Regions from separate parts of the Homo sapiens genome. Here region 1 is linked to region 2. Evidence: fine-mapped expression QTL. A gene starts in region 2. The other region holds a variant in brackets. All regions are shown on one strand. Distances are from middle to middle.

Region 1 (14,261 bases), 35 kb after region 2:
AACTTTCAGTCCTCAGGCAGCCTGAGCAGTGCTCTCGGTGCAGGATGCAGGGTGTAGAGAGCTGCCAGAAGGAAAGCCATCAGGTGGAATGCAGGCCCCGCGTTGGCAGTGCCACAGGAATTACACATCATCCTTTAATGTCGTGATTCCATACAGAGATCAAGGAAGCTGTGCTTTTGTGTAATCCTTGTAAAATGCTGCAAAATACCATGCGTTCTTGTGAAGTATCAGTCATGGTAGTTACCAGTGTTGTATCTGAGAGGCAGCATGGGGAGAGCTTATGGGACCTTGAGCACATCATAATTTCCCCATCTGTAAAGCAAGATGCTCTCTGAACCAGTCTGTGAAAGTCAGGTTGTGAAAGAATGTGACTGTGGGAGGGAGGATGTGAGGGAGATGCTGAGTGGGGTTAGATTGCAGTTCTGTCTCGGAGGAGCCTGCTAGAGAGGGTTGGAAAGGAGTCTATGTGGAACAGGCTTGCAATTTGGTGTCAGCAGAGACATCCTCAGCCTAGATTTGGTGGGACTTGGTGCAGGTGAATACAGGGATTGATGTGGCTGTGAATGGGGGTGGGGTGGTGGCTGAGCCAGATTGCAGGAGAACAGGGAGGAATGGGAAAGGAAAAGAGGGAAACCCCCACCCCAGGGAAACCCCCACCCCAATTCAGGGCATCTGTCAGAGGCAAGGTGGCAGGAGAGAGGAAAGTCAGGAAGTATGATGAGTATAAACCCACTCAAGAACTGCAGGGGCCTTTGCTGCCTTCTGCCCAATTGGCCTTTTGTCCCATGCCATGTTAGCAAGTTCTTGTCTTTTATGGATTAATTTGGTCATTTAACCAATATTTATTAAGTCACTCCTCTATGCTAGGTGTTGGATATGCAGCTGTTAGCAAATCAGATAGAGGTTCAGTTCTCACAGAGTTGTGTCCTTGATGGGGGTAGGGGACAGGCAAATGAGCAATTAACCAGACATATGGACTGGCCCATCCTGGGGCCTCTCAGGACCTGGTGGTTGGCTGCCCCTTTTTTCTGGTACTTAGATGTATGCTATGTCCTCACTTGGAAGATATTTCTATTCCTCCTGACTGGGTCCTTCACAATCTGTATTAAAACTCACATTGATAAATAAAAAAATTTTTTTCAGATTAAACCCACCCTGTCTTCCTCCAACTCCCAGTGTTGACACCCAGACTTTCGTTTGCTGTGTGCTTTGATGCATATGGGTACAACCCTTTCCCAGTGTTCTTTTCTCCTTTCTTGGATGCAGCTGCAAGCCTGGGTTGAGTTTTATGAGAATTCTCCCACTGTACACAGTTCTGTGCTCTGCAGAGGTTGCTGGCGGAGCACCTAGGCCTGACTGAGACAGCAGGAGAGGAGAGGGAAGACTCACTGAGGCAGTCCGGTTGTAGGCAGGAGCCGCCCCTGTGCGGGGAGTCCCATTAGGAGGAGACTTTGAGCATCATGTGTTAGAATGCAGTAAGTGGGAAGGGCTCTTGGAGACCAGGGAGGCTGAGACTGCCCGGGTTCACACTGGATTTAGAGGCAGTGCTGGAATCAGAACCTAGGAAATGGGAACAATGCAGTCGGAAACTCCCTCAGAGTTTTCATTTAGGCATTTGAAAATGTTTAAAAAAGACAGAGGTCTAAACACCAAAAACCGTCAGGCACAGACTTTCTTTCCCCACTGAAGCTGTAAGACAAAAGACATGTTCATGAACACTAGTCCAGCCTCTTAAAATCTTCGAGGAAATGTTGCCATGTCCTAGTTTGTGTTTTCCCTTAGTGTCCTCCTTGAGGCGGTTTCCTGCATGCTAATGTTAGGACATGTATTGAGGAGAAGCCAGCAGCTCTGCTTTTCATTAAGTAAATCTCACGTGGTCTCTTAAAAACCAAAAACCAGACAAAAATAACAGTAACAGCAAAAATGTATTAAGCTGGAAAAGAGCTTCTTTTTCAAGTCAGATAATTACTTTTAGAAATTTTCCTCCAACGTGTTCCTCCCTGGTCTCTGGTCCCTTTTCTCCACCCCTCCTTGGGGCCTCTGAGTTCCTCAGGAAGTATTTCCAGTATGGGCTGTGGGTTGCTGCAAGGCCTGGGGTTTTCTTGGTAATAGGCACTTTGCCACATGAGCATTTGACAGTCCAGTCTCGCAGAGGGGCCGTTCATCACCTTGCTACTAGCCCACACAGGAAGAAGAGGCTGGACTCAGCCTGTAACAGAAATCTGTACAGTTTGTTGTGTTTATTTCCTGACTTGGCTTAGAATTGTGATGATGATTGTAAGACCAGCCTTTGAAGTAAAGGAGTTTGAGCTGCACCTTTACCCCATGTGCCTGTAGACTGACACATGGTGTCACCAACATTGAGCACCCCCTGCCCCCCACTCCAGACACTGTGCTCTCTAGTAGGTACACTCATCTCTACCTGCCTTGCAATATTTGTATACTGCAGGGGCAGGTGTCTGGGTTCTGGCCCTGGCTCTGGACTCTAGTGTCCTGATGGAGAAAGTAGGTAGGGAGACTGGACTGGATTAGTGGTGTTTGAACTTTTTTTTCTTTTGTTTACTGGAACCTCTTTTCCAAATGAAATCTTAAAGGCAACCCTAGTATATAAAAGAGTGAAGGAGGAACTGCTGAGGATGAAGCTGAGCATGGGGCCCCCATCCTCTTTTCCCTCTAGAAGTCCCCCAGGCATCTCCTGGAACCCTAAGACTCACAGGAAGGGTCTGGATCCCAACGACTCAATGTATTTATTCTGTAGTGACTTGGAGCTTGACATGTTACTGTTTTACTTATGTCTCTCTCCTGGATGTGTTCTCCTTTACGGGGAAAGCTCTGTCTCATTGGTTGTTGTGCCCTCGGTGCCTAGTGCTTAATACATGATAGTAAAACCAAGAACTGGCAATCTGTGGTTATTTGTAACTTCTTGCCTCTTGACTCAAGAGGCTGCAGTGAGCCGTGATCACACCACTGCACTCCAGGCCTTAGTGACAGAGTGAGACCCAGTCTCAAAAAAAAAAAAAAAAAAGTGTATACTCTGTTACCAAGTCTGTAATTCTTCTGTTCCCAGCACACCGTCTTGCTTTTCTTAGTCAGAACCCTACTGTAAGCCATGCATTGACTCTCCTGGCCAGAGCCAAATTACCCTGATAGATACACAGCACTTGTTTACTCATGCCATGCCCAAGATACTTCCCCAGTGTGTTCTTGAAGCCCTTCCTACACTGATTGTGGTCAAGTCAGAACCTGCCTACACAGTGCAGGCCCATCATGTGGCATTCAGGACGTTGCTCTCCAAGCCTGCGCAGCACAGGAATGCCTGCTCTCTGTTTCCTTTACCAGTGCTCAGTGACCTTTACCAGAGACCTGTTCTTGCTGACTCTGATTGTGTGCTTCTCTGATTAGAAACGAATTTTTCTTGGCTGGGTACAGTGGCTTATGCCTGTATTCCCAGCACTTTGGGACGCCAAGGTGGAAGAATTGCTTGAACCCAGGCATTCAAGACTAGTTTGGGCAATATGGCAAACCCTGTCTCTACAAAAGAAAAAAAAAATACAAAAATTAGCTGGGCATCGTGCGTGCCTGTAGTCCCAGCTACTTGGTAGGCTGAAGCAAGAGGATTGCATGAGCCTGGGAGGTTGAGGCTGCAGTGAGTCGTGTTCACTGAGACCCTATCTCAAAAAAAAAAAGAGAAAATAATTTTTCTTGAATATCAGTGGTCAGCAGTCAATTCTGATTTCACAGAAAGAGATGGTTGATTTTGTTGATATAGAGATATTTTAAAAAGAAGTGTAGATCAAATTGATTATTGTAAAGTAATATTGAATTCTGTTTATAAGCATGTCCTATTCTCAGAGAGATTATGCCATTCGGCATGGGATAATTCTACCACTGAAATACCAGTGCAGATTATGTTATTTGGAAGAATACAAAGTATTTGTAGTTAGAAATGTTTTTATCAGCCGGGCACAGTGGCTCATGCCTGTAATCCCAGCACTTTGGGAGGCCGAGACGGGTGGATCACCTGAGGTCAGGAGTTCGCGACCAGCCTGGCCAACATGGTGAAACCTCGTCTGTACTAAAAATACAAAAATTAGCCAGGTGTGGTGCTGGGTGCCTGTAATCCCAGCTACTTGGGAGGCTGAGGCAGAAGAATCGCTTGAACCCAGGAGGAGGAGGTTGCAGTGAGCCGAGACCGCGCCATTGCATTCTGTCCTGGGCAACAAGAGCAAAACTCCGTCTATGGGGGAAAAAAAAAGAAAAATGTTTTTATCAAAAACAAAAAAATTTTAAGTAACTTTTTATTATGGGAAATTTTAAACATATACGAAGAATAACATAATATTACCTCTAGGTTTATTAGGTAGTTGGAACAGTAATTACCCCTCGTTTCATTGATACCCTGCTTTGTTATTTTCAAGCAAATAACATGTTACCTGAAGCAAATATTACTATGTATTTGTTAAGTAACAAAATGTTGCTATTTTGAAGTAAATCCTGACCATCATATCATTTCCACCTTAACTATTTCAAAAGTTTACATTTTAAAGATGTGTTGTGAAGTTTCATCATGCTTTAGCATCAGTATGTTTGC[T/C]TGTGAATTTACTGAACTGCTATTCTGTGATGTGCAAACTTTATTTTTTCACTGTCACTCTTTACAAGCAAATACATTTATATTTGTATTTCTCCCACTTTCTTAGAGAAAAGGGACCCTTGTATAATCTGATCTGCACCTTGCTTTTCTTATATAACAGTTTATCCTGGAAATTGTTTCTTATCAGTACAGGTGATTGGACTTTGATGACGGGTTTATGGTGAGGGTTATTGGTCTGCAGTACTGGAGGAAAATTCTAGCCTTTGCTTTCTCTGGGCCAACACTGTTAATACTTGGTGGTTTGAGGCATGTCACAACCTTCCTTTGAGAAACATGGATCTGTTTAGATGAAGATGGTTTCAGAACATCAGAGTTACCCACAGATTATGTTTTTATGTAGTATACATTAAAAATATACTATTACATAGTTTAGATTTTTATATAGTATGTCAAGTCAGTGTTTTATGTGGGATGTCAAGTTTCGTGTGGAAGCTTTGAGTAACTGACATTTGTTTACCTTTTTTTTCAGATTTAATTTACCCACACCCAAATGCTTCTGCAGAAAAAGCCAGAAATGTCCTAGCTGTGGAGACTGTGCCTGGAGAGCTGGTGGGAGAACAAGCTGCAAATCAGCCCGCCCCAGGGCATCCAAATTCCATTAATTTTTACTCTTTGAAACAGTGGGGCAATGAGCTCAAGTGAGTCTTTAGAAAGCAGCATATGAAATTGAAAATGGGTTGTTTCTGATAATGTATGTTATAATTTTATAAATGAAGTTATAAAACTATCTTACACTTACAAAGGCCTTTGTTGTTTACATCATACTTTCCCATAGATCATTGTGGTTTTAGCTTGTATTACATGCTTATTCTGTGTCTGACACTATGCCAAACAGTTTCACACTTAAACGGTTTAATTTAATTGCTCAACTCTGTGAAGTAGGTCATATGGCTGACATTTTACAGAGACTGAAACTGGCTGAAGGAGAGTATGTGTCTGAGGTCACAATTCTTCCAGGCTGCAGAGCTGGGGCTTCTTGTGCCTAGGGCCTAGTCCCCTCTCCAAGACACTAGGCTGGCCACGTCCTGTGCTCTGGATTTCCATTCTCTGTTTGTGCATGGGCTAGTGAGAGTAGAGGTGGGTTGGTTTTTGTTCGTTTGGTTGGTTTTTATGAGATGAGGTCTTGCTGTGTTGCCCAGGCTGGTCTCAAGTCCTGGGCTCAAGTGATCCTCCTGCCTCAGCCTCTTGAGTAGTTGGGACTACAGGCATGTGCCACTATGGTTGACTTGTTTTTTAAAGAAGAACTTTATTGATATACAATTCACACACTGTACAATTCACCCATTTAAAATGTACAATTCAATGATTTTTGGTATATTCACAGAGTTGTGCTTCCATCACCACAATCAATTTTTAAATGTTTTCATCGATCCAAAAAGAAACTCATTACATTAGCAGTTCCTTCTCATTTCCCCCAACCCCTTCTCCTCTGTCAACCCTCAGCCGTAGGCAACTCCTAATCAACTTTCTATCTCTATGAATTTGTTTTTTGGTGGGTTTTTTTTTTTTTTTTAAGATAAGGTCTTGTTCTGTTACCCAGGCTGGCATGCAGTTGCGTGGTTCATGGCTGACTGCAGCCTTGAACGAAGCAATCCTCCTACCTCAGCTTCCAGAGTAGCTGGGACTACAGGTGTGCACCACCATGCCCGGCTAATATTTTATTTATTTATTTATTTTGTAGAGACAGGGTTCCCTCTATCTTGCACGGGCTGGTCTCAACTTCTGGGCTCAAGCAATCCTACCTTGGCCTCCCAAAGTGCTGGGATTACATGAGCCACTGCCCCTGGCTTATGAATTTGTTTATTGTGGACATTTCATATAAATGGCACCGTGCATACCTTTGTGTCTGGCTTCTTTCCGTTAGCATAATATTTTCAAGATTCATCCATGCTGTAGCAACTATCAGTGCTTCATTTCCTTTTATGGCCAAATAATATTCCCATATATGAATGTGCCATATTTTGTTTATCCATTAGCTGGGGGTGGTGATGCATGCCTGCGGTCCCAATTACTTGGAGGCTGAGGTGGGAAAATCACTTGAGGCCAAGAGGTCGAGGCTGCAGTGAGCTGAGTTCGCATCACTGCACTCCAGCCTGGGCAACGTGGTGAAACCCTGTCTCAAAAAAAAGAAAAAATGAAAAAAGAGAAAGGTTGTAGTGGCAGTGCGTTGTGGGAGACTTGGAAGTTTCTTGCTGTCCTGTAGAGTCCAAGCCAGTGGTCACTATGCAGTTGGCCAGCTGAGCTCCATAAGGGGTCCCACTGGTTTTTCAGGATGGGGCTGGGGTGTTCTTAGAAGCTACCATCCAAGGACACACTGTTTTAAAAAGTAGCCTCTTTGCTGTAACTGCTTTCTTTTTTGTACCTTCGTGGTTGAATTCAGTATGATAAAGTTATTTTCTGTGTGTTTTTAGTTTTTAAGGCATAGGTTTATATTGAAGCTGAGTGGGATATATAGGATATATATAGGTTATATTGGAGCTGAATGTCAGGGGTACTCAGACCTCAGAAGACCAGCACTTGTGAGGGTGATCACTGTAGTGGGCCCTGCCTTCCTTCCTCATCCTGGCTTGTGGCTGCAGTCCCACCTTCTTGGTCCTGCTCTGCTCCCATTCATCGGCTTTTTGCTGTTTTCTCTCTTGAGTCAGCTCTGATCATGTCATCTCCCTACGCTGATAGCCCTCAGCCTGCAAGTGCAGCTCCAAACTCTTTGGTCTGATATTTGAGGTTCTCAACGATACGACATTAGTCTCTTCCTTGGGCAGCTGTTCCCAGTATTAGCACTTTGTGAGCCTCTGTGTTCCGGCCATTCTGTGCCTTCCTCTTCATCCCAGAACCTCTGCTCACCATGTGCCTGTCTGCCCTGTGCCATCTGATTAAGTCCAGTCATCTCCCAGCACCCAGGGGATGGGGAGGGGTCATCCGGGAGGCACAGTGGGGCTGCCTTCCCTAGGTACCTGCAGCTTGAGAACCACTGATTTCCTCTGTTTCAAAGTATTGGGCTTCTCAGTAAAGAAAGGGATCTGTGCTCCTAAAAGTGTCAGAAAACCACTGAGAGCCTCCCTTCATTCCACATGTTAAAAGGTTGAGGCTTAGAGAGGTAAAGTGACTTGCTCAAGATCACATAGCAAGTGTGTGGCCGAGCTGAACACACACCCAGGTCTCCTAATTGGGGACCCAGTGCTCCTTCCCCCTTTCATCATAAGAACACATTTGGGGGACTATTGATTTGCCAGATTTTCATACCTAAGCTGTGTCATCTGCCCTCAAAGTGAGATAATGGAATGAGGTGGAAATAGACCTGTAATGCTGGGTGTTTTCCATGTCCTTGAGCATAGGAACATGGATGATGATTGAGTGCCTCCTGCCTAGGAAAGTGAACGCCTGTCACTTCTGCCTGTCACAGCTGACAGATCACATTCAGGGTGAAAAATCTAGTGTAGGAGTTATCTTCTATCAGCTGTGCCTTTGCCGTGTAACACAGTGATTAAGAACCAGGCTGCCTGAGTTCAACTCCCAGCTATGCCACTTAGTAGCTGGATAACTTGGGCAAGTTACTTAATATTCTGTGCCTCCGTTTCTCATTTGTAATATGAAGATAATAATCATACATCATGAGATTGATAGCATGATGATGAATTCATATGTGTAAACTGCTTAGAACAGTCCCTGGCACTTAGGAAGTACTAGGCGAGTGTTAGTTGTTGCTGTTGCTGGTGGAGGCACAGCTCATGACAAAGCCATTCTTCACAGAGGTTTTTGGGACCACTTTCTGTAGACACTAATGCTTATTGACTGGCATATGAATCTTAAGTGTTTATGGTTTTTTGTTTTTCTTTTGTTTGTTTTTACTTATGGCATGCTTTATGAAGTTTTAAATAAAATGCCTTAGGTGCACAGACAGACTTTAGTGACCCTAAAATAGATTACTGTATTATAAATGAATGGCTCAAAAATTGTATTTTTTAATGCACTCAAAATGCTGTCAACATTATGGTCAAGGCTTAAAAGATAAATGAAGGTTTATTCTTTTATTCTATTTATCAGTATAGTTGAAACTCTCTTAACTAGCTCCCCTGATGAACTGACATTTTAAGGTTCCTCAGTAGAGCCATGGTCCTCACTGACTGACTGCATGAGACCAAATGGGCCACTTCAGGGCACCTGTGTCCCTGCTGCCCCCACCAGCTGAGCTACAGACCTACCAAGAATCAGCTGGGTTTGTTCCTCACTGGTTAATGCCCGTTGTACTTATTATTGTAATTATGTAATTCAATGAGATATTTACTAAACCCGTGAAATATAAAAAAGGAATTGTTGTTTCTAGGAAAAATAAGTTGAATGCTTAGGGAAAATTTGATAAAGGTGAGTCACTGAAAAAATTGCTGTGAGGATGTGGGTGACATGATCGTGAAAAATCAAAGAAAAAAAACTTAAAACCCTGTAAGATTTTATGCTTAGATTGTTTCACAACTGTTAGGCCTTGTTCCACTTTTTAATAAGAAACAAACAAAATTGGGAAAGTTAGCTGATGTCTTAATGGATGTGATTTGCCCAAGAAAGATAACAGAGAACTGCAGTTAGTATCCCCAGATTGATCTCTTCCTTCCTCCCTCCCTGCCTCCCTTTTCTTTCTTTCTTTCTTTCTCTCTCTCTCTCTTTCTTTCTTTCTTTCTTTCTTTCTTCCTTTCTTTCTTTCTTTTTTCTTTCTTTCCTTCTTTCTTGCTTTTTCTTTCTTTCTTTCCTTCCTTCCTTCTTTCTTTCTTTCTCTCTTCCTCTCTCCCTCCCTCCCTTCTTTCCTTCCTTCCTTCCTTTTCTCTCTCCTTCCTTCCTCCCTCCCTCCCCCCCTTTCTTTCTTTCTTTTCTTTTTCTTTCTCTTTCTTTCTTTCTCTTCCTTTCTTTCTTTTTCTTTCTCTCTCTCTTTCTTTCTCTCTCACTTTCTCTCTTTCTTTCTCCCCTTTCCTTTCCTTTCTTTTCTTTTTTCATTTTTTGAGACAGGGTCTCTACTTTGTCACCCAGGCTGGAGTGTAGTGGCATGATCTTGGCTTACTGAACCCTTGAACTTCTGGGCTCAAGTGATCCTCACACCTCAGCCCCCCGAGTAGCTGGAAATTTAGGCACGTGTCACCATGCCCAGTATCCCCAGATTCCAAGAAGAGGCTTTGGCTGGTGTGTATCAGTAGACTGGCAGATGAGTGCACATTTACATACACCTTTACAGGTGCATGTGTTTGTTTTAAGTTCCTTTTATATGGATTCCTGCTTTAACCACATTTTTCATTTAACTTTTCAACAGTCCAAATCACACCAGGTGAAGGAACTAGGTCTCTGCTGAAATTCTGGCCAGTCCATGTGTGTATGTGCATACTCAGGGGTGGGAGTGCGCAAGCAAGAGTGAGAAAGCGCATGCCTGAGCACACGTGTGAGCGTGCATTGGAAGCCTGTGTGGCGGTTGAGCGTGTATTTTCAGTGTATGTAGGAGGTGTGCTTAGGCTGCAGCAGCGCTGACAGCAGTCAGCAAAGTTCTGTGGCTTTGTGGCCTGGACTGTGCGCCCATCTCTGGGTGCTAGGCTGGGCCTGATGTGGACCTCTGGCTCCTGGGGTCCAGCTCTAGTTCTGTTCAAGAGTGGGGTCACATTGTGGATATTGTAGTCAGCCCAGGTTTTGGAATCCCAGTCCTGCTACTTATTGGGTGTGTGATGTTGAGCTAGTGACTTAACTTCTCTGAGCTTTATTTTCTCCATCAGTAAATTGCGTGTGTGTGTGTGTGTGTGTGTGTGTGTGTGTGTAGTAAGCCTCTCTACTGGATGGGTGGGAGTGAGTGTTAAGGTTATAAATAAGAACTGCCTAGCACAGTGTCATTGTAAGTGCTCAGTAAATGGTGGCTACACAACCCAGGCCTGCTGGTATTGCTGCCACTGTTGTTACCCTGTCTCTTTTGAGCCAGTAGGTGAAGTGAGTCTCCACTTCCTTGAGTCAGGTGGATGGGGTGCCTTTCTCAATGCAGGTGTAAGGGCTGAGCTAGCCGGGAAGGTGTGCTCATCCTTCCAGGCCTGCCTCCCATAGGTCTTCTGCGGGCCCTGCAGTTGGCCCCGCTCTGATCCTTTGTTTTTGCTTCTCTCTTGACTCCCTCAGGCCTGGTAGAAAGAGTTATTTGTGAGCATGGCGGGGGTTCCCAAGAATCTATTATGGTTTTAGTGTCTAGGACCGTAAAGTCATGACAGTGACTCCTCTCTTCAGCCCCAGTTCGTAGCAGAGGGCCCGGCGCAGCCCAAAGCAGGCACCCGGATGTTTGGTGAATTAGGGGAAGTTTTTCCTGTCCCGGAGCCGTAATGTGGTACTTGTGATTTTCCTTGTTGGAAGGCACAGCTATGTCTGCCAAGAAAGACAAGGCATGTAGTCACCATGCTGCTGCCTCACACAGACATTTTTTAAGCCAGGACTTCTGGAGAAGGAAGCAGAAAGGAAGGCAACTTGCTCTTTGGCCCATGGAGTTTCAGCAGTTGCAGGAAGTTGGCTGGGGTGTGTGTGTGTTTCTGCAGTGGTGCAATGGCACCTGGTCTTTTCTGATAGCCCCCAGGAGCATGAAGTCGTGCTTAGCAATTATGTCCCAGTAGTCCTCTTGGTCTTGATCCATTCACATGCTCCCAGGGGCCCACATATCAGAAGGGCCATCGGTGTATGACACTGTTCCATGGAAATCACTGCGGTCATGAGAGGACCAGTGGCTTTGGCCTGTAGACTCGGAGACCTTTCACCATGACTCAGCATGGCAAGCTGAGGCTCAGAGAACTTTAATGTCTTGTCCAGGGCCACCAAGGGAGCAATTGGGCCATGTCTCCGGTTGTATTTAGAGTTGGGGGCTGAGGAAGGGCACCTGTCTGCATCCTGTGCCTGTGCTGGGTCCACCTGTTGCAGGGACCCAATTCTAAGGGACCTGAATCAATTCAATCGACTGCCTCAGCCTTTCAGAGGCTTCTCATTGCCTTAGGCTGAAGGCTGTGCTGCTGAACATGGCCTTCAGGGTCCCGTGGGGTCTGACCCCTGTCATTTCCTCTGTTGCAGGCCCACTTGACTTCTTTCAGTTCTTCAGGTGTATGTCTTCCCAACAGGCCCTGCCTCAGGCTGTCCCATTGCAGGGAGGGCTCTGTCTTCTCTGGTTACTTCTGCTCATTCTTCAGAGAAGCCTTCTCTGTTCCTCCCACTCCTCACTGCCGTGCTTCTCCTTCATAGCCCTGTAGTTTCTGTATTTCTTTGTGTACTTGTCTGTGGTCCAGCTCTCTTGCAAGGCTGGGAGCTCCATGGGGCAGGGACCCTATCTGTCTTGTCTCTGGTTTACCCCAGCACCTCACACTGCCTGGCTCATGGTGGGTGTCCAGCACCGACTTGAGGAAGAGTGATGAGGGAAGGCTCCAGACCCTTCCAGGGGCAGAGTTGCTCTGCTGCTCTTGCTCCCGCTGCTTGGGGGCTTCTCATCCTCTGCCCTTTATACTCGTGGGGGGGTCTGCCCACACCCACCTGCCCTTGTGCCACACTCCCTTCCCTAGCAGGACGACAGTTCCTCTCAGCACTTTTCTTTCTGTTTGGCTTCCTGGGCAGGATGTTACCTTCTGACACAGCATTGTTCACTTTTTTGACTGGGAACTGACAGCAGAAAATACACATCTTTGTATGTAAATGTATACTGTTGTTATGTAAATAAAACTGAAAGAAAAATTCCACTGCTACATGTAGTAAAGCTAAGTAGTATTTTCTCTTCTAATACTAAAAAAATGCTTGTCATGACCCTCAAAATTGATTTCCTCACTCCTTAATTGATGTCCTGGCCCCCAGTGGGTCATCACCTGCATTTGAGAAGCCCGTTCTGCAGGACTGCCTGGCTGGGCAGCTGGCCCTCCCTCCCACCCTGCTGCATCTTCCTCTCCCCTCCACTATGGGATGGGGCTGAGGATGTTCCCTTGGGTAAGAGGCTGTCCCTCCCCGCTGTCAGCTGTTTAAGGTTCTTCAGGAAGACAGGCAGGCGAGCCCGTGAGTCCTGCCACAGGGGCTGTAGGGTGCGGTTCAAGGCTGAACCCAGTATGTCACGGCCTACCTGGGCACACCAGGAAGAAGTGCTTATTCTTTGCAGTGTGGGTTGTGGGAGAGGCCGGTGATGGTTTTGCTGTGAAGATGAGTTTTGGCTTAAAGGGCTTGAGAGATGGAGAGGGACTGTCCAAAGGGGAATGCAAGTGCAAGGACACCCATGCAGAGGCAAGGAAGTCAGAACAGGGTGTGTCTCAAGAGTGGCATGGGTTCTGGTGCCAGGTGCGTAGGGTGCTAAGGGGGTGAGGATAGAAGAGGAGCTGAGGAGGCCAGGGACTCCCAGGGTGAAGGGGTGGGGGTGTCTGCCCTTTGGACAGTAGGGAACCTGTGGAGCTGTACCTGTCTGAAAGTTCTACAGTAAGAATATTGTTTCTTAGATGTTTGGTTTCTTTGAGGCTGTGCATGTTTATTAGGTGTTTGCTCTGATGTCTTAAAATTGGAAGGGTGATGTACTCATCTGTCCAGGTAAATGTCTAGAGTATTTTGGAAACTGTCTTTCTGATGACACCTTTCCAGGTCCTCAAGACCAAAAGACATCATATCAGAAGTAAATATATTCTGACTTTGGACGTTAATGCTCCAAACTTGAATGCCAGCTGAAGCCTGGACCACAACAGAAAGCAGCCTCTCGAAGTCCTTGGTTTGAAGGACGATAGCTTACTAGAGAGTAATTGTGTTAATTTGCTCTGGCTGCTATAACAAGTGACCATAACACTGGTGGCTTAAAACAGCACCTATTTATTGTTTGATAGTTTGGGAGGCCAGAAATTCAAACTCAGCTTCACTAGGCCTAAGTTAAGGTGTTGGCAGGACTGCTTTCTTCAGAGGCTCCAGGGCAGAGTTAGTTCCTGGCCTCCTTCAGCTTCTGGTGGCTGCTGGTATTCCTTGGCCTGTGGCTGCCTTGCTCTAAATCACTGCTTCCTTGGCCACATTGCTGTCTCCTCTTCTGTAGTTGAATCTAGGCCCACTCCCCAGATAACGGTGTTAATCCATTCGTGAAGACTGAGCCTTCATGGCCTAATCACCTCTTAATGGTCCCACCTCTTAATACCGTCACAATGATTATTACATTTCAACATGAGTTTTGGAGGAGATATTCAAACCATAGCAAGTGACCTGGCTTGCAGGCCTGCCACCTGACAGCTTCCCCATTTGGCCTGCCTTCTTAGTTGTGTGTTTGTACTTCATTGCAATAAGCGTGCATGCGTATAAAAAGAAAAATCAATCATTGCTGAGGGGTACACAGTTAAAAATGAAAGTCCTTTTAAGTCCACTTCCCAGAAGTCACCACTAGAACTGAAGGTACTTATGTCTGCACCCTGAACTTCGCTCTGTGTGTATGTGACTTAGAGGGATTGTACAGTATCCACTATGTCAGTGCATAGCTACTTCAGGGACTTAGAATGCTCACTCTTCGCTCAGACATGGCTTATCTGTATTTACCATGTCATGAGGCCCACTTGCACCAAAGCTGTGCTCTCACCAGCAGATGGGTCAGGAGGGGTCAGCAGTGGTGGAGAGTGTAGGGCCA
Region 2 (17,316 bases):
GCTACTGCGCCCAGCCAAGTGTGTATATTATTTTCCTCACCTTCTTACATAAAAGATAGAGTACTATACAGCATTCTGCACCTTGCCTTGTAAAAAAAATTCAACAGTGTATCTTGGCACTCCTTCCACAAGACTAAAGAGAGGGGTGCCATTCTTATTTTCACAGCTGCATATTATTCCATTGTATGAATACATAATAATTTTTGTAACCAGTCCTCTATTGATGGTCATTTGAGTTGTTTCCAATTTTTTTTAATTCCTGAAAATGCAGCAATGGATAACCTTATATGGATTTGATTAAGTGTAAGAATAAATACATCCATGAAACACATTCTCGAAAGTGGAATCGCTGAATCAAAGGGTATTTGCAGTTGTCATTTTAGCAGATGATGCCAAATTGCTTTCGTTAAGCGTTGTATTGATTTATGGCTCAGTAAATACTGAATAAATGAATGAATAATATTTTCAATTTCAGTCATTTTGAGGCCCCCAGCATGCAGGAAAAACCAGCGGAGAGGGCTATGGCTGGTCCAGAGAAGTCACCAATGTTATCGTGATCCTTTTGGTCCCTCAAGGCCACTGAGTGACTTCGTCTTGCCATCTTTCTACATGGCTGCTGGTTGGGGAGGGCAGTGTCCAGAGAGGTCCCCCTCAGCCCTTCTCCCACCAAACACAGGTGGTTCTATTTTATCCTTAGGACAATGGCCAGGTACTGGGCTGGGAACTTTCCAAGGGCCTATAAAAAGATCTGAGACCTGGAAGAAACAAACAAACAAACAACCAGTATTGGCTCCAAAATTCAAAAGGAGAAAAATGCAAAATCACAATGAATAAATGTATAAGTAAATGTCTATACTATGTAATATTGCATCAGCTTCATTTCGTATTCATAAAAGTTTCATCACATCTGAAAATGGTTTGGAGGCCAGATTATCTTAGCTCACAAAAATCCTCAAGTGTGCAAGAAGACTGCCAAGAAATCATTACCAATTGCAAGTGAAATGAATTCCTCAAGGCCAAATCATTTCAAAAGCAAAATCATAAGAATAATCCTTTCCAAAAAGCTTAAAGCAAAAGACATATATATTTTTATTGTAAAATATGGCCATGCCATTTAAAAATTACATATATTTGATAGTAGTGAGATGGAGACTCCAAAGGTGAGAGTGCCCTGGACCTACCACGGTCTTAAAAACATTGCCAACCTCATCTGCGCCATAAAGCACCCATCTGGGGGGCTCTGGGCCTGTAGTCTCTGCTCCTGACAGCCCAGAGCGGAAAACCACCCCTTAGATCAGAGAGGCTCCCTTGTCAGTGTACCTCTCAGTTTCAGCAGCAAGAACAAGACGCAAGTTAATTTTGCTATAGATAATCCAGACTCACTAGTGAGTATTTCTGAGTCCCATGTAAAAGTGAAATTCTTCAGAGTTGCTTGCTGTTTGCTCATGACAGCTGGAGAAGGGACGAGATTTTGGGATCAGTTTAGGGACCATAGGGAAGACAAGGGGCCAAGGACCATAATTTTGAGAACCCTCATTCTACAGCCTTTTGGAGGCCAGATGGCCACCGTGGGGCCCAGCTGCAGAGACCTGGTACACCTAGCAACTTGGGCAGCTGGGGCCCCTGGGCTTGCTCCTCAATTTAGTCCTATCCCTGTCTCCCTTCCCCTCACTTTACAGCTGGGAAAACAGAGGTCCTCCGTAGATTCCTAATGATTTTGAGCCCTTACCAGGTGCCAAGTACTTCACATACACACATACATGATTTCCTTTCATCTTTATAGCAGGTATACAAGGTAGCATTACTGTCCCCATTTTTTCCCATTATAAAGACAGGGACACTGAAACTCAAGAATGGAAATGGCCTGTCCAAGACAAGGAGTAAGTCCATGGCAGGGCCAAGTCGAGAATCTCGTACCCCATCCTCCTCCCCTATACATGCTGCATCCTCCTCCCATGCCATTGCTCCAGCCATTTTCCCTGCTACCCAAATTCTTTAAATACTTTAAAAATGCATTAATTCAAAATTAATAGTCAATGTAGTCAAACTTCCAAATAAGAAACACATTTAAAAACATTCCTCCCACTCCAGAATCTACTTCTTCTGGGTCTTTTCTGTGCCTGTCTTCATGTATCCTGACTGCCTTCTTCCCGCTTCCCTCTTCATTGCTTTGCTCACATAAGTACGCCGTAAACTCCTTTCGTAGACCCCTTCGCCCAACCAGAAGAATGCCTGAACTTCCACCATCAGAACAGCATCTCTTTAAGCTGTCAGTTAAAATGCCCCACCTTCCAGACTTGGCCTCAAAGTAGGTTTTAGTCCCTGCTGCTTGTGTGGGAAGGGTGGAAGTGTCCGAGATCAGATTTGGCTGAGTGATGGGGGCACTGGGAAGGGGACAGCATGAGGGCCTCTAGGAAGCAGAAAGGTGAAGGCAGAGGGGACTACGCTGTGCTGGGCCGGGCGCCAGGCCCTGGGAACAGGGTGGTAACAGGAAGGACACAAGGCCTCTGCAGCTGCGGCCCATTGCCTCCTCAGGGTCTAGTGCTCCCCTGCTCCTGGGGCAGTGTGACTCTCCCTGTCTCCCATGCTGGGCTTGACTGCCTGGTACCAAGCCCCTGCCAACCCTCTACCCTCTATCAGCTCCCAGAGACACCCAGACCTCCATCTGTCTGAGCCTCGGTCCCCTGGCCCCAGGGCTGGGAGATTGGCCAGCACCTCAGATTTGTTCCCTCTCAGAAAAAGAGCCAGGAGGTATGCAAATTTGACTGCCAATTTGGTAGGGAAATGAGGCCTACTGGAAGCCAGAGTCCACAGTCCAAGATGGTCTGAGAGCCCTGGGCTCCCTTGCTGGGGCTGTTCTCTCTGAGGCTGTCCCACCTGACAAAACTGAGAGCTTCCTGCAGTGGGGCCAGGCCTAGTCTTGTGGTGAGTTTTCAGCACCACCCATCACCAGCCAGAGGCAAAGAGCAGGAGCCAGGGATGTTTGTTAAATGAATTAGTTACCAAACTGAGACTTGTTGTACGTCAGCGACTGTGTCCAGTGTTTTGCATTTACTGGCTCATTTAAGCCCCTAGCAGCTCTAAGGGGTAAATGTTATTATGCCCCATTGTACAGATGAGGAATCTGAGGCACAGAGAGGCTGGGAGATTGGCCCAAGCGCCCATAGTTCCTTATTTATTTACTTAGAGACAGGGTCTCACTTTGTCACCCAGGCTGGAGTGCAGTGGCGCAATCTCAGCTCGCTGCAACCTTGACTTCCTGGGCTCAAGCAATCCTCCTGCCTCAGACCCCCAAGTAGCTGGGACTATAGGCATGCACCACCATGCCCAGCTAATTTTTTGTAGAGATGGGGTTTTGCCATGTTGCCCAGACTGGTCTCAAACTCCTGAGCTCAAGTGATCCACTCGCCTCAGCCTCTCAAAGTGCTAGGATTACAGGTGTGAGCCATCAGGCCCAGCCCCCTTCTTTATTTTGAAACCACTCCCCCACCACCCTACCCCTGCCCCAGTACCCCCAACAACCTCCCACCAGGGCAGTAGGCTTGGTGCAGGGTGCCCCCTTTCAGAGCTTTGCGGACATACCTGGAAAGCCCTCTCTCTGGTCTGGGGTCTCCCTGTGGCAGCTGTGTGCTCTGGTCAAAGCATCCTCTGCTCTGAGGATGGGCTTGCTCTTCTCTGCCCTGCCCCTAGCCCTCCAGCGCTCGGCCCATTCACAGCTCCAGTCCCCCAACCTTCTTCACCCACCCCATCCCCTCCTCATCAGGCCAACTTCCTTCACAAGGACCTACGAGGATAGCATTGTCCAACCCCCAAGTAACACAGCTATCTCTGCTTCTGTCTGCCTCAGGGACACAAGGCCTTCATTTGTGCCCCGGATGGGGGTGACGATTAGGGCTGCTTCTCCTTCAGGGCCCAGGGTCATAGGATGCAAAAGTGTCACCTCAAAGGGGTCATGTTTGCACCAACTGCAGTGGGCAGCCAAGCCTGTAGATGGAGTGGAGCCCTGAGGGGATGGGGCAGCTTGGTTGTGATGGCTGCAACAGTCCAGAGGGCTTTGAGCAGTGGGACTGAAAAGAGCATAGCCTCCACTGGCCTGCAGAGCTGTGGGAAGAATGACTGCAGGCCCTCACAGCTGTGTCTCAGGCCACTGTTGTGTTTCTGAGCAGGCAGGGGCAGGCCTTTGGACATCACTTAGCCATCCGTCTCCTTGTTGTGCAGGTGGAAAACTGCAGCCCAGAGAGGGCAGGGACATGCCCTGGGGCATACAGCATACAGGTGATAAGGCTGTTTTCCTCTCTGGGCCTCCTGCAGATCTGTGCACTCCTCCAACGGGAGGTCAGCATCTCGGCCAGCTCTGTCTCCCTGGAGTCTGACAGCTACAAAGGCAGTGTGCAGTGAGTGCTTCTTCAGAGGCCTCTGGGCACATGCTACCAACTCTGGGGAGACTGACCTAGGATGAGTCACTGGCTCTGTGTTCCCCTAGGGTTTTCCCAGAGGCTGGCCATGTAGGAGCAAGTTTACTGCCCAAATTTCCCCTTTTCAGTAAACACCAGCTACTTCCTCCTGGGTGGTTACTTCCTTCTGGTCACTGGGTTCCTGGACGGCTCGAGGAAGCAGGGGCTTACATGGGCATGCAGGGCAGACCCCTCAACACCTCTCATGCCTGTACTAGATGCAGGGAAGGTACACAGGCTGTATAAAGCTGGCCCTGACCACAGGACATCACTGTTTAATCTAAGAGACCTCAGGAACTGCAGATGTCAACAAACCATTTACGAAGGGTTTCAGGGAATTAGGAGCCACCAGAGACAGCCCCAACATTTCCATGTAGGAGGCCCTTGGGAAGAACTGAAGCTATATCTATTTACATAAACTATAAACATTGTCCAGACTGAAGATGGAGGTACTAAGAGAGATGAGATAAAGCCCCATTGCCTAGTTCTCCTCAGCTCATGGCCCTAGGAATGAGGGGAGAAGGGTTTGTTCACGAAATAAAAAGCATTTCAGCAGGGTCTTGAGAGAGTCAGTGGGGAAGAGGGGCCTGGGGGAGGTCTAGAGAGTCAAGAGGGTTTTAGGGTTGATTCTGGAGGCTCTAGGGATCCTTGGAAGGCTTGGGCCACTTCCTAAGCCTGGTCGGGTAGACAGAGACTCAGGGCCCTCCAGGGGACCCTCCTGAGACATTGCTGTTGGCTTTGAGGCCTCCATACTTTACCACTCTCACTGGGGACTCAGGCCTGTGTCTGTGCAGCCTCCTCAGAGGGCCATATTCTGGACCCGGCCAGACCGAGGCAGGGGCCAGGCCAGTTTATCCCCTAATATACTAAAAAGCTCAGTGCCTGGGCCTGCCTGCTTGAGAGGCCTGTGAAATGTTTGTGGCCTAAGAAAAATGTATTGGCTCTAAAACCCAAGAAAAACAGCAAAATTAGAATTAATGAACATCTAATTAAATGTCTACAAATGTAACATGTCACCTTTATAGTCATCATAAAAATGTCATAACAGAGCTGGGCACCTTGGCTCATGCCTTAATCCCAGCACTCTGGGAGGCCAAGGTGGGAGGATCACTTGAGACCAGGAGTTTGAGACCAGCCTGGGCAACATAGCAGAGACCTATCTCTACAAAAAATACAAAAATTAGCTGAGCGTGGTGCTGCGCACACCTGTGGTTCCAGCTACTCAGGAGGCTGAGGTGGGAGGATTGCCTGAGCCCAGGAGGGGGAGGTTGCAGTGAGTTGAGGTAGCGTCACCGCACTCCAGCCTGGGTGACACAATGAGACCCATCTCCAAAAAAAAAAAAAAAAAAAAGGTCATTACATTTGAGAACAATTTCTAGGTTAGGTTTCTCTCACTTGGCCAAAATTCCCACACAGACACGATGATTGCCAAGAAATCAGCCAATTAAAAATGAAAATGAAAACTCATAATTAGATAATATCAAGAGCACAATTATGGATATTCCTGAAAACATTTTCATAGCAAAAATTATGTATATGTTTACTACGGGATGTAGAGCATTTTAATATGTTTGATATGATGTCAGGTGTGGCCTCCAGAAGGAAGAGGGCAGTGGCTTACAAGCATTTTATTTATTTTTATTATTATTATTATTTTGAGACAGAGCCTTGCTCTGTTACCCAGGCTGGAGTGCAGTGGCACGATCTTGGTTCACTGCAACCTCCTCCTCCCAGACTCAAGCGATTCTCCTGCCTCGGCCTCCTGAGTAGCTGGGATTACAGGCACGTGCCACCGTGCCTGGCTCATTTTTGTATTTTTAGTAGAGATTGGTTTTCACCATGTTGCCCAGGCAGGTCTCAAACTCCTGACCTTGTGATCTGCCCTCCTTGGCCTCCCAAAGTGCTGGGATTACAGGCGTGAGCCACCACACTCAGCCCTGCAAGCATTTTAAAATGGCCCCAGCTCATCTGTGCTGGGTGACCAGGGAAGGATTGGAGGCTCAGGTGTAGGGGAGTCAGGCTGAAGTCCAGCTTGCCCACTGAGGGGCACAGACAGCAGGTACGGTTCTGCATGCCAGGCCCTGGCGGATACAGCAGTGAACAAACCAATCATTCTCCTACCCTCGTGGAGATTATATTCTAGTAAGGCAGGGAGGTGACACACAAGAAAGCAGATAAAAGTAATGTGTGCTATGTTGTATAAATGCCGTGATGACATGTAGATGATTACCGCTTAAAACAGCACCCCTGTCCCGTCCCATCTGCCTAGCCCTGGCCAGCCAGCCCAGACTCTTAGTCCAGGAGGGGGGCTCGTGGCTTGTGCCTGTGAAGGATGCCTTCCTCGGGCCTAGCAGACATCGGCCCCCGTGAGACACCTCATGGGGCTTGGTCCTGTCCACTGGGACCACAGGTCATGGCCACCCCCACTTCCTTATAACTTACTGATAGATCTAGGAGAGATGGGCTACACCCTCCCCTGTCCTGTTGCCTCCCTGTACCATGGCAATACAGACCGGGTTCTCCCAGCTCTTCCCTTTCCCACAGTATTTCAAGGTCAGACCTCACCCTGACTGCCTACCCCACAAGCCAATTAGTCACAGCCCCTTTTACATACATGGTGAGGCCCAAATTGAACTTGGGACCCCTTGCTCCCGAGAGCAGCCCACTCCACTCCCGCAGCACCGCAGTGTCTGGCCTCCCTTGTCTGGGCCCGGTCTGACTGTTGGATTCCCCCTCTCCGAATCTGCTGACTGATGAGGAAGACATCGGTGTTAACTGCAAGATGATAATAATAACAGCTGATATGTGCTGAGTGCTTACTATGTGTGAGGCACCGTGCTAAGCACTTTCATATGCATTTCTCACGTAACCCTTTCAATAACAACAGCACGAGATAGCTACTTGTATTTATCAACCCTGTTTTATAAATGAAGAGACTGAGGCCCAGAGAGGTTAAATCACTTGCCCAAGGTCATGCCTCTGGTAAGTGGCAGAGCTAGGAGACACATCTGGTCAGTGTGAAGTCAGAGCCCAGTCCTTAACACTGTGCTGATTGTGCTCAAAGACAGGTGGAGAGGTCAGCCACACCTCTGATGGGCCCCAGGAAAGGAATGCTTGCGTGGTGCCACTTTAGGGCCTGCAGAGAGTCGGCAGGCTGGGTGAGGACCCAGAACCTGCCCTTCCTACCTGGGTGGCTCCAAACAGGCAGTCTAATTTGTGTCCCTGTCCAGCTCAGAAAGGTCAGTTTTCCACCTGGGTCTTTCAGTGTGTCTGTATAAAACATGCAAATCTATGAGGGTGAGATATTTGGTTTGGGCTTTCACAAATGTAGCTATGTAGCTATACACTTCCTTTTTCCTTTGAATAAAGTGAGCTCTTGTACTCACTATTCCCTCTCCCTGGAATGCTTCACCCACATTTCTGGTTGCCCCTGTCCCTCCCATCATCTGGGTTTGTGCTCCATGTCACAGGATCAGACCAGCCTCCTTGCCTGTCCTGGGGCAGCAGCCTGCTATCTGCCCCCCATCACTTCATCCTCTCACTTTGCTTTTTACTTATTTTTTATTCTTGTGGGAACATAGTAGGTGTATATATTTATGGGTTACATGAGATATTTTAATACAGGCATGCAATGCATAATAATCAAATCAGGGTAAGTAAGGTATCCATCACCTCAAGCATTTATCCTTTGTGTTACAAACAATCCTATTATACTTTTTTTTTTCTTTTTAGACAGAGTTTTGCTCTTGTTGCCCAGGCTGGAGTGCAATGGCGCAACCTCGGCTCACTGCAACCTCCACCTCCGGGGTTCAAGAGATTCTCTTGCTTCAGCCTCCCGAGTAGCTGGGATTACAGGCATGCACCACCACGCCCAGCTAATTTTGTATTTTTAGTAGAGACAGGGTTTCTTCATGTTGGTCAGGCTGGTCTCGAACTCCCGACCTCAGGTGATCCACCCACCTCGGCCTCCCAAACTGCTGGGATTACAGGCGTGAACCACCGCGTCTGTATTATACTCTTTTGGTTATTTTTAAACGTACAATTATATTATTTTTGACTGTAGTCACCCTGTTGTGCTAGCAAATACTTGGTCTTATTCATTCTTTCTCTTTGCTTTATTACAAAGCAATAGATTTGCCTTCTCAGGTTGTGAGTGTTCAAATAAGTTAGTCTATAAAGCACTGATAAATACTAGGTGCTATTTTAAGCGGTAATCATTTACATGTCATCACGGCATTTATACAACATAGCACACATTACTTTTATCTGCTTTCTTGTGTGTCACCTCCCTGCCTTACTAGAATATAACCTCCACGAGGGCAGGAGAATGATTGGTTTGTTCACTGCTGTATCCGCCAGGGCCTGGCATACAGAACCGTACCCGGCATTCAGAAGGCGCTCAATAAATATATGTTGAATTCAATAAATGAACTGAGGTCTGGAGAGGCAGGAAACGCTTTGGCTTTCATGAATTCTGCAAATATTTACTGAGCACCCACTCAGCACCAGGCAATAGGCTGTCTCATTTTTACAATATTAGCTTGAGACTCTGGCAGGAGGGAGATTTAAATATCAAGTTTTTAGAATAAGATACACAGTGTGAAATGCAGTTTTAAGCGGACACTCCGCTGGGTTTTGAGAGATGCACACTCCCATGTACCTACACTGCCATAAAGAAATAGACCATTGCTTCATCCGGCAGGGCGAGGACTTGGAGCCCAGGTGGCACGAAGGCAACTGACCCGCGGGGTGCTGGTCGCAGGACCCTGCCTCCGGGGGCTGAGGGGGCAACGGCCGGCGGGCGGGCGGGGGCGAGACTACAAGTCCCAGGGTGCTTTGCGCGCCCGCGGGCCGTGCGGAGCGAAGGGGCGGTGCGGAGGGGGTAGGGGGCGCAGCGGCCGCGGCGCGGAGGCGCAGGGCGCGGGCGCCTACGGTTGGCGCGCGGTAGCGATGCCGGGGGCCGGAGCCCGGGCGGAGGAGGGCGGCGGCGGCGGCGAGGGCGCGGCGCAGGGGGCGGCCGCGGAGCCCGGGGCGGGTCCGGCGCGGGAGCCAGCGCGGCTGTGTGGCTATCTGCAGAAGCTGTCGGGCAAGGGCCCCCTGCGTGGCTACCGCAGCCGCTGGTTCGTGTTCGACGCGCGCCGCTGCTACCTTTACTATTTCAAGAGTCCGCAGGACGCGCTGCCCCTCGGCCACTTGGACATCGCGGACGCCTGCTTCAGCTACCAGGGCCCCGACGAGGCGGCGGAGCCGGGCACGGAGCCGCCCGCGCACTTCCAGGTGCACAGCGCGGGAGCCGTCACGGTGCTCAAGGTGGGACCGCTCGCCCCAAAGCCGCCCGCGCGCTTCCGCCGGCGTCCCCTGCCTCCGCCACTGGCTTGCGCCATCCACCCTCCTTCCTCCAAGGCCTCCTCGCCCCTGCCCACGTCGGCCTGCCTTTCCCTGCTTCTCCACATCCCGCCCTCGTTCCTATCTCCTCCCCACTATCTGGGCTTAGGCCAGTCTCGCTGGGGCTACCAAGCCCCGTCTCCTTTCTCAGACACCTTGACCCATTATCTCCCTCTGCGCCTAACCTCGGGCCAGTCTCTGGTGTCTCCCGACCCCCACCATCCCGTGGATGTCCTGTGCAGCCTTCCCAGGCATCCGTGAGCGTAGGCTTCTACCCCTGGGGCCTCCTTTAGAACTTTGCCTATGGCCTTGGTACCTCAGTGAACCGCTCTGGGCTGCAGCGGCCTCCTCTGTAAAATGGGATAACAGTAGTATCTACCTCATGGGGTGTTGGGATTAAATGAATTATACTTTAAACTGCTCAGTAAATGTCAGTGCTTTTATTTATTTGTTTATTTATTCTTTTTGAGACAGGATCTTGTTCTGTTGTCCAGGCTGGAGTGCAGGGGTGCGATCTCGGCTCACTGCAGCCTCCATGCCTGGGCTCAAGAGATCCTCCCACCTCAGCCTCCCAAGTAGCTGGGACCACAGGTGCGGGCCACCACGCCTGGCTAATTAAATTTTTTTTTTTTTTTAAAGAAACGGGGGTCTCACTATGTTGCCCAGGCTAGTCTCGAACTCCTGGGCCGAAACCATCCTCCCCATCCAGCTTCCCAAAGTGCTGGGATGCCAGGCGTGAGCCAGAGTGCATTTAGCACTGTAGACAGAAAGAGTCAGATGGCAGGGCCCTTAGAGACAGTCCACTACATTTTCCTCCAGAGTGGACGGGGATGCTCCAGCTAAGGTCACACAGCCAGTAGGTGGCAGATCCTGTGTTCTTCCTCCTTGCTTTGTCCAGGATGGGTGGGAGGGGGTCTTTTCAGCCAGTTATGCCTTGCTCCTTTGAGGCTCCCTTAATCCTCCAGTGGACAGACAAAATGAGAGATACAGTGTAGAAGCAGGAGAGTAGAGTCAGGAGTCCTGGTGCTGAAAGGCCTCCCCTGTCCTTGGGAGTTCTGGGGGACTAGACTGTCACCTCCTAGGGGCCCACCTGCTTTGAGCATCTGGAGGGATCTGGGCCCAGGCCTGGAGCTGGGTATCCTTTTTCCAGGCTTTGCTCCCTGCCTGGTTTCTGTGAGTCTCCACCCTCACTCTCACTCCTCTTCCGTATTCCAGGTTGGGCTTTCTCCAGAGCAACAGGGTTGGGCTGGGATGTATGAAAGTGCTCTCAAAGCTGGCCACACGGAGAGCAGACTAGGCAAACTCCTGGCCTTGTGAGCTGAGGACTGTTCCTCAGACCCCCAGAGCTGCTAACAGCTGGAGCTGCTCCCTGGAGATGTTCTTAGAGCTTTGCTGACTCAGCTTTTGCCAGTTCAAGCAGGATCTGATTCCCATGTTCTCTTGGGCTCCCCTGTCCTGTCTGTAAGTGGGTGCAGACAGCCTGTTTCCCCAAAGAAAACCAACTCGGGTTGCAGTCCTACACAGGCTTACTTAGAGAGTGCCTGTATAAACTTGGTAATGACCCTAGTGGGAGACCTTTGCCAAAGGCAGAGGCTCTTCCTCAGTGTACATACGGGCTGTCCCTGTGTCGGACGAATTTCCTGTGGGATGTTTGTTAAAGAAAATAGAGCATCGTGTTTCACATTTTTCCCAGATGACTGTAGAACTCTATCAGTTTTTTTCATTAAAATAATCTGAATCTCCTGTAATCCCAGCACTTTGGGAGGCCGAGACGGGTGGATCACGAGGTCAGGAGCTCGAGACCATCCTGGCTAACACGGTGACACCCCATGTCTATTAAATATACAAAAAATTAGCCAGGCATGGTGGCGGGTGCCTGTAGTCCCAGTTATTCGGGAGGCTGAGGCAGGAGAATGGCGTGAACCCGGGAGGAAGAGCTTGCAGTGAGCAGAGATCGCGCCACTGCACTCAGCCTGGGTGACAGAGTGAGACTCCATCTCAAAAAAAATTAAAAAAAAAATAATAAATAAGAATCTACATAAGCAGGGTTACAAGGCGCATTGTCAGAAGTGTGGCTTTAAACTTCGATGGACTTGAACTTGAAGCAGGAGTCTGCTGCTCACACATATTGGACAAATTACACCAGTTCCCTGCTCCAGTTTCCTCTTTGGTCTAGTGGGAATCATACCTTCCTCATTAGGTGGCTGTGAGGATTCTGGAGAATGTTATGGAAAATGGCTGGCGCATTTTCCATAGTGGTATGGAAAATAGTAGGCACTACATGGCATATGAAACATCAAGCAGTGTCTTTGGCCAAATATGTAGTGTATTCATATAGTGGAATATTATGCAGTAGTAAACAAAGGTACTAGAGCTATAGGTGTCAACGTGGATTACTCTCACAAACAATAAAATTGAACAAGAAGTAAGTTACACACTGATTGTGTTCAGAATGATACCACTTATAGAAAGGTTAGGAAGATCATGTGAAACAGTACTACAGATCATAAGGATGTATGCTCTTTCGCGAGGGGAAGAGCTTTATGGGGCTGATGAGCTCTGGTTTCCAGGTAGTGGTTGCCTGTGATGGGAAGAGGGAGGATGTGATTGGGAATGGGTGCCTCAGGGCTTCTCCTGTTTTGCAGTGTTTTATTTCTTGGACTGGGTCATAGGTATATCAGTGTTTGTCCTATTATGCTATCCATCTTTTTGTAGGTTCAGAATATTTCTTTTTTTAAAGAAAGGAAATACATTTTCCTTTGGGTTACTGACAATGGAGGAATATTTTGACATGTAAAATTAAATTGGTCACAGAATAAGATAGTACCGAGTGTTGGCTGTATACAACAATGGGAATGGAAATCAGGCAAGGCTTTCTGGAAGAAGGGAGGAGAAGGCCGGGCGTGGTGGCTCATGCCTGTAATCCCAGCACTTTGGGAGGCCGAGGCGAGTGGATCACTTGAGGTCAGGAGTTCGAGACCAGCCTGGCCAATATGGTGAAACCCCATCTCTACTAAAAATACAAAAATTGGCTGGGCATGGTGGCGCACGCTGTAGTCCCAGCTGCTCGCGAGGCTGAGGCAGGAGAATTGCATGAACCCGGGAGGCGGAGGTTGCAGTGAGCCGAGATCACACCACTGCACTCCAGCCTGAGCGACAGAGTGAGACTCCACCTTAAAAACAAACAAACAAACAAACAAACAAGCAAAAAACACCCCGACTCTAAAACCCTGCTCCCTTTTTTTTTTTGAAACAGAGTCTTGCTGTGTCGCCCAGGCTGGAGTGCAGTGGCACAGTCTCTGCTAACTGCAACCTCTGGCTCCCGGGTTCAAGCAATTCTCCTGCCTCAGCCTTCCGAGCTGAGGGACTATAGGCGCGTGCCACCGCTCCCAGCTAATTTTTGTATTTTTAGTAGAGACGGGGTTTCACCATATTGGCCAGGCTGGTCTCGAACTCCTGACCTCGTGATCCACCTGCCTCTGCCTCTCAAAGTGCTGGGGTTACAGATATGAGCCACCGCACCCAGCCAGGCGTGTGTTTTAAGAAAATTAAATTTCATTGTACAGTTATTTCTTTTGAGCTGTAGGAGTAAAATCTTTATGGTGTAAGTATGGAAATTACCAATTTATCTTCCTTTTCGTCTTTCAAATGCAAGAACTGATTCCCTTAAGCCTTAATGTTTCACTTTAGGGCTGCCCAGCCATAGAGGAGACCCTGATTTCTAAGGATTTTAAGTTAGGATTTAGCCCTGCTCAGACTTCAGCTAGTGGTATATAATTTTACAAATACCATTTCTTATCACAGAGGGTTAAAAAGTAAAGAAAAATCAGCACTTTTCTTATTCTATTATCATATGTTTTTCTTATTTAAAAGTGTCTTTCAGCTCTCTCTGGAGAAGCTGTGGTTTTGTTGGGCTTTTTCAAAATGTTTTTCTATGTAAGTCTTAATGAAAGCTGATATAGGAATTTCTTGGGAAACTCCTCTATTCCCAAACTTAGGGATTTGATCTGGTGCCTTATGAGGTAATAGAGGCTAGAGAGGGGATGTGATTTTGCCAACATCATGAAGCTAGACTCAGACCCTCTCTGAAAGTAGAGGCTCCAGGAATAGTGAATGTCTAAAATGTGTAGTATCTAATTGTATTGTCTGTTCTGACAAGTCTGCTTTTTTTTGACTTTGTTGGGGATCGGATAAGGCGTAGTAGTAGTCTTTCCTTCTATTGCATTTAATATCTGTCCTTTTTGGATAGTGGGTATCACAAGGGAACATTTTACTGCCCAGTTCTTTACCAGGATGCCTAGTACCTTTTGCTGGACATGTCTGGAAACTGCTGCAAGGGTCTAGCAGAGGCTGATGCTTCCTGTGTGCGTCTCTCTCTGTGTGTAGGGGTGCTGGAGGCTTCTCACAGAGCTTTACTGGAATCTGAGGCACTTAGGGGAAGGAGAGCATGTGACTGACCGAGGGTGAAGCTTAAACAGCCTTGATCTTCCAGATCTCTGCAGACTTTGGAGCAAGAGAGCGTCATCAGACCGTCAGCAAATGAATTCCTCCCTCCGTAGGTGCTTGGTGCTAAATAGACATGTGTACTGGTTTCTGAGCCACACGTAACTGAATAGCTGTGTACCCCTATTCTTAACCACTTTTGTGGGAATGCACATTCCCTGGTGTTGAAATTTCTCTTAATGACAAACATTTGTCGGCTTGGGTAATCATATTGTTTTCAGTGCAAAATAGATGTGGTGAACCAGCCTCCTTTGCTGTTTGGTTCTTCTAAGCTGTTCTGCCCTAGGGCATCTGCTCAGTCTTGAAGCATTATTTAACTCTTTAAGTTATGGGAATTTAACTTTTCATGGCTTTCCAATTAGTAAGTTCCTTCAAGGCAAGTCCAGTATTGTGCTTGTGATATCACAGTGGCATTCCGTCTCCCTCTCCCACTGCCTCACACAGTCCTCATTGCAGGGGAGTCTCCATCCTATTTCCTGCTAACCAGAGGGTAAGCTCCCTAAGGACTGTGTGTATCCTCAGCTCCTGCAACAGTATCTGGCACAAAGGAGACATGCTATAAACTAGTGTTTGTGTTCCTGAAAAATTCGTATGTTGAAGTGCCAGCTCCCAGTGTGATGATATTTAGAGGTGGGGCCTTTGGGAGGTAATTAACTCATGAGGGTGGAGCCTTCACGAATGGGATTAGTGCCTTTATAAAAAGAGACCCTGGAGAGATGATCTCCCCTTCCACCTATGAGGATACAGCAAAAAGGCATTCCTTTGCAAACCAGGAAGAGGGCCCCCGCCAGGAACCAAATTGACCAGCACCTTGATTTTGGACATTCCAGCCTTCAGAACTGAGTAAATTTCTGTTGTTTAAGCCACTTAGTCTGTGGTGTTTTTGTTATAACAGCCTGAACCGACTAAGGTAAGGTGCCCAGGTAGACATTTGTTGCATGAATGAATAGAAAATGGTCACCCAGTAAGCACTGGTTTTGGTGTGAGCCCTGACCCTTTAGAAGTGATCAGCCAGAACTCCCAAATATACAGGTGTATTACATGCCATTCTTGCCTCATGTCATGGAGGTGGCAGCCATTCAGTGAATGCCCACTGAATTTAACAGACATCAGGAATCCAAAAGGGGGTTATGACTCACCCTTCCCCAGAGGAGAGAGCTTACAGTCAGTTCCATATTTTCGGGTCTCATATATTTCATGCCCATGGTCAGGACTCCAAGGACACTGTTATAGCAGAGGCAAACTTTTTATGTAAAGGGCCACATACTATTTTAGGTTTTGCGCACTCTGCCATATCTGTCACTATGCTGTTGTAGTACAGAAACAACCACAGAATGAGTATAGCTGTGTTTTAACTTTTAGTTATGGACTCTGAAATTTGGATTTCATATAATTTTCACATTTCGCAAAATATTCTTTTGATTTTTTTCAACCATTTAAAAATGTTAGCTGGGCACAGTGGCTCACTCCTGTAATCCCAGCACTTTGGGAGGCCGAAATGGGAGGATCACTTGATACCAATAGTTCGAGACCAGCCTAGGCAACAAAGTGAGACCCTATCCCTACAAAAATTAAAAAAAACTAGCCAGGTGTGGCTGGATGTGGTGGCTCACGCCTGTAATCCCAGCACTTTGGGAAGCCGAGGTGGGTGGATCACTTGAGGTCAGGAGTTTGAGACCAGCCTGACCAGCATGGTGAGACCCTGTCTCTACTAAAAATACAAAATTAGCTGGGTGTGGTGGCGGATGCCTGTAATCCCAGCTGCTTGGGAGGCTGAGGCAGGAGAATTGCTTGAACCCAGGAAACAGAGGTTGCAGCAAGCTGAGGTGGCGCCATTGCACTCCAGCCTGGGCGACAAGAGCGAAACTCTGTCTCAAAACAAAAAACAAACTAGCCAGGCATGATGGCACATGTCTTTAGTCCCAGCTACTTGGGAGGCTGAGGCAGGAGGACTGCTTGATCCCAGGAGGTGGACATTGCAGTGAGCTGTGTTTGCTCCACTGTACTCCAGCCTGGGTGACAGAGGGAGACCCTGTTTCAAAAAAATAAAATAGCAAAATAAAAATGTTAAAACTGCCCTTGCCTTGTAGATTGTACAGAAATAGGCAGAGACTGGAAATGACCGCAGGCTGTAGTTCACTGACTTGTGTTCTAGGAAGGCCTCAGGAGCTTCCCACTCATTCACTCACTGTGTGTGCTTAGGCACTGGGGATATGACTGGACAAGACAAACAGTCCCTGTCCTCCTGGAGCTTTCAGTAGGTGGGGGGGACAGACGTTAATAAAATATAACAAACACCAACCAGTGCTAGGAAGTTTGAAAGGAAAGATATGCAATGCATGTATAGTTCAGGATCTTGATCTGGTTTATGGTTGGTGGAGGGCTAGGAAAGACTTTCCTGAAGAAGCGACATTTGAGCTGAGACTCAAAGGATGAGTTGGTGTTGACTGGAGCGGGGGTGGGGGTGGAGAGGAGGAAGTCAAGTGTTGTAGGGAGAGGAAATGGCATAAGCAGAGGCCCTTAGGTGGGGGTGCTGGTTGCATGTGGGACTCAAGGAGTGCCTGGTGGCAACTAGGAGTGAAGGGGACATAGCCTTTGGAAGAGGCAGGCCTTGGGCCAGGGCAGGATTTTGGTCTTCATCTTAAGAGCTAGAGTCAGTAAAGAGTTTTAAGCAGGGTTTGACAAATAGGTTTTTGTTTTCTTTCTTCTGCTCCCAGATAGATTGTTTTAGGCCATTTGTGCTGCTGTGAAAAAATACCGTAGACAGGGTAGCTTATAAACAACAGAAATTTATTTCTCATAGTTCTGGAGGCTGGGAAGCCCAAGATGAAGGCACCAGCAGATTTGGTGTCTGGTGAGGGCTCACTCTGCTTTAGAGGTGGTGCCTTCTAGTGGTGTCCTCATAGCAGAAGGGGACAGACAAGTTCCTTCTGGGGCCTCCATCTATGTATGTTTGTATATATGTATGTATGTA

The links.
Region 1: its variant is fine-mapped to the expression of TBC1D2B in whole blood (INTERVAL, PIP above 0.99).

What each region holds. Positions count from the first base shown.
Region 1 is chr15:78,035,928-78,050,188 of GRCh38, reverse strand. It overlaps TBC1D2B (TBC1 domain family member 2B), which reads left to right. Exons shown (of 13, transcript NM_144572.2): 3 at 5,121-5,289. Among named protein-coding and RNA genes, the nearest start is that of TBC1D2B, 35 kb to the left of the region's middle. RefSeq lists a silencer at 2,789-2,868. The variant T/C (reference allele first, on the strand shown) is at 4,592.
Region 2 is chr15:78,069,741-78,087,056 of GRCh38, reverse strand. It overlaps TBC1D2B (TBC1 domain family member 2B), which reads left to right and starts at 9,346. Exons shown (of 13, transcript NM_144572.2): 1 at 9,346-9,764. The coding sequence starts at 9,405. RefSeq lists enhancers at 2,962-3,021, 2,545-3,045 and silencers at 9,061-9,110, 9,261-9,470, 9,671-9,870.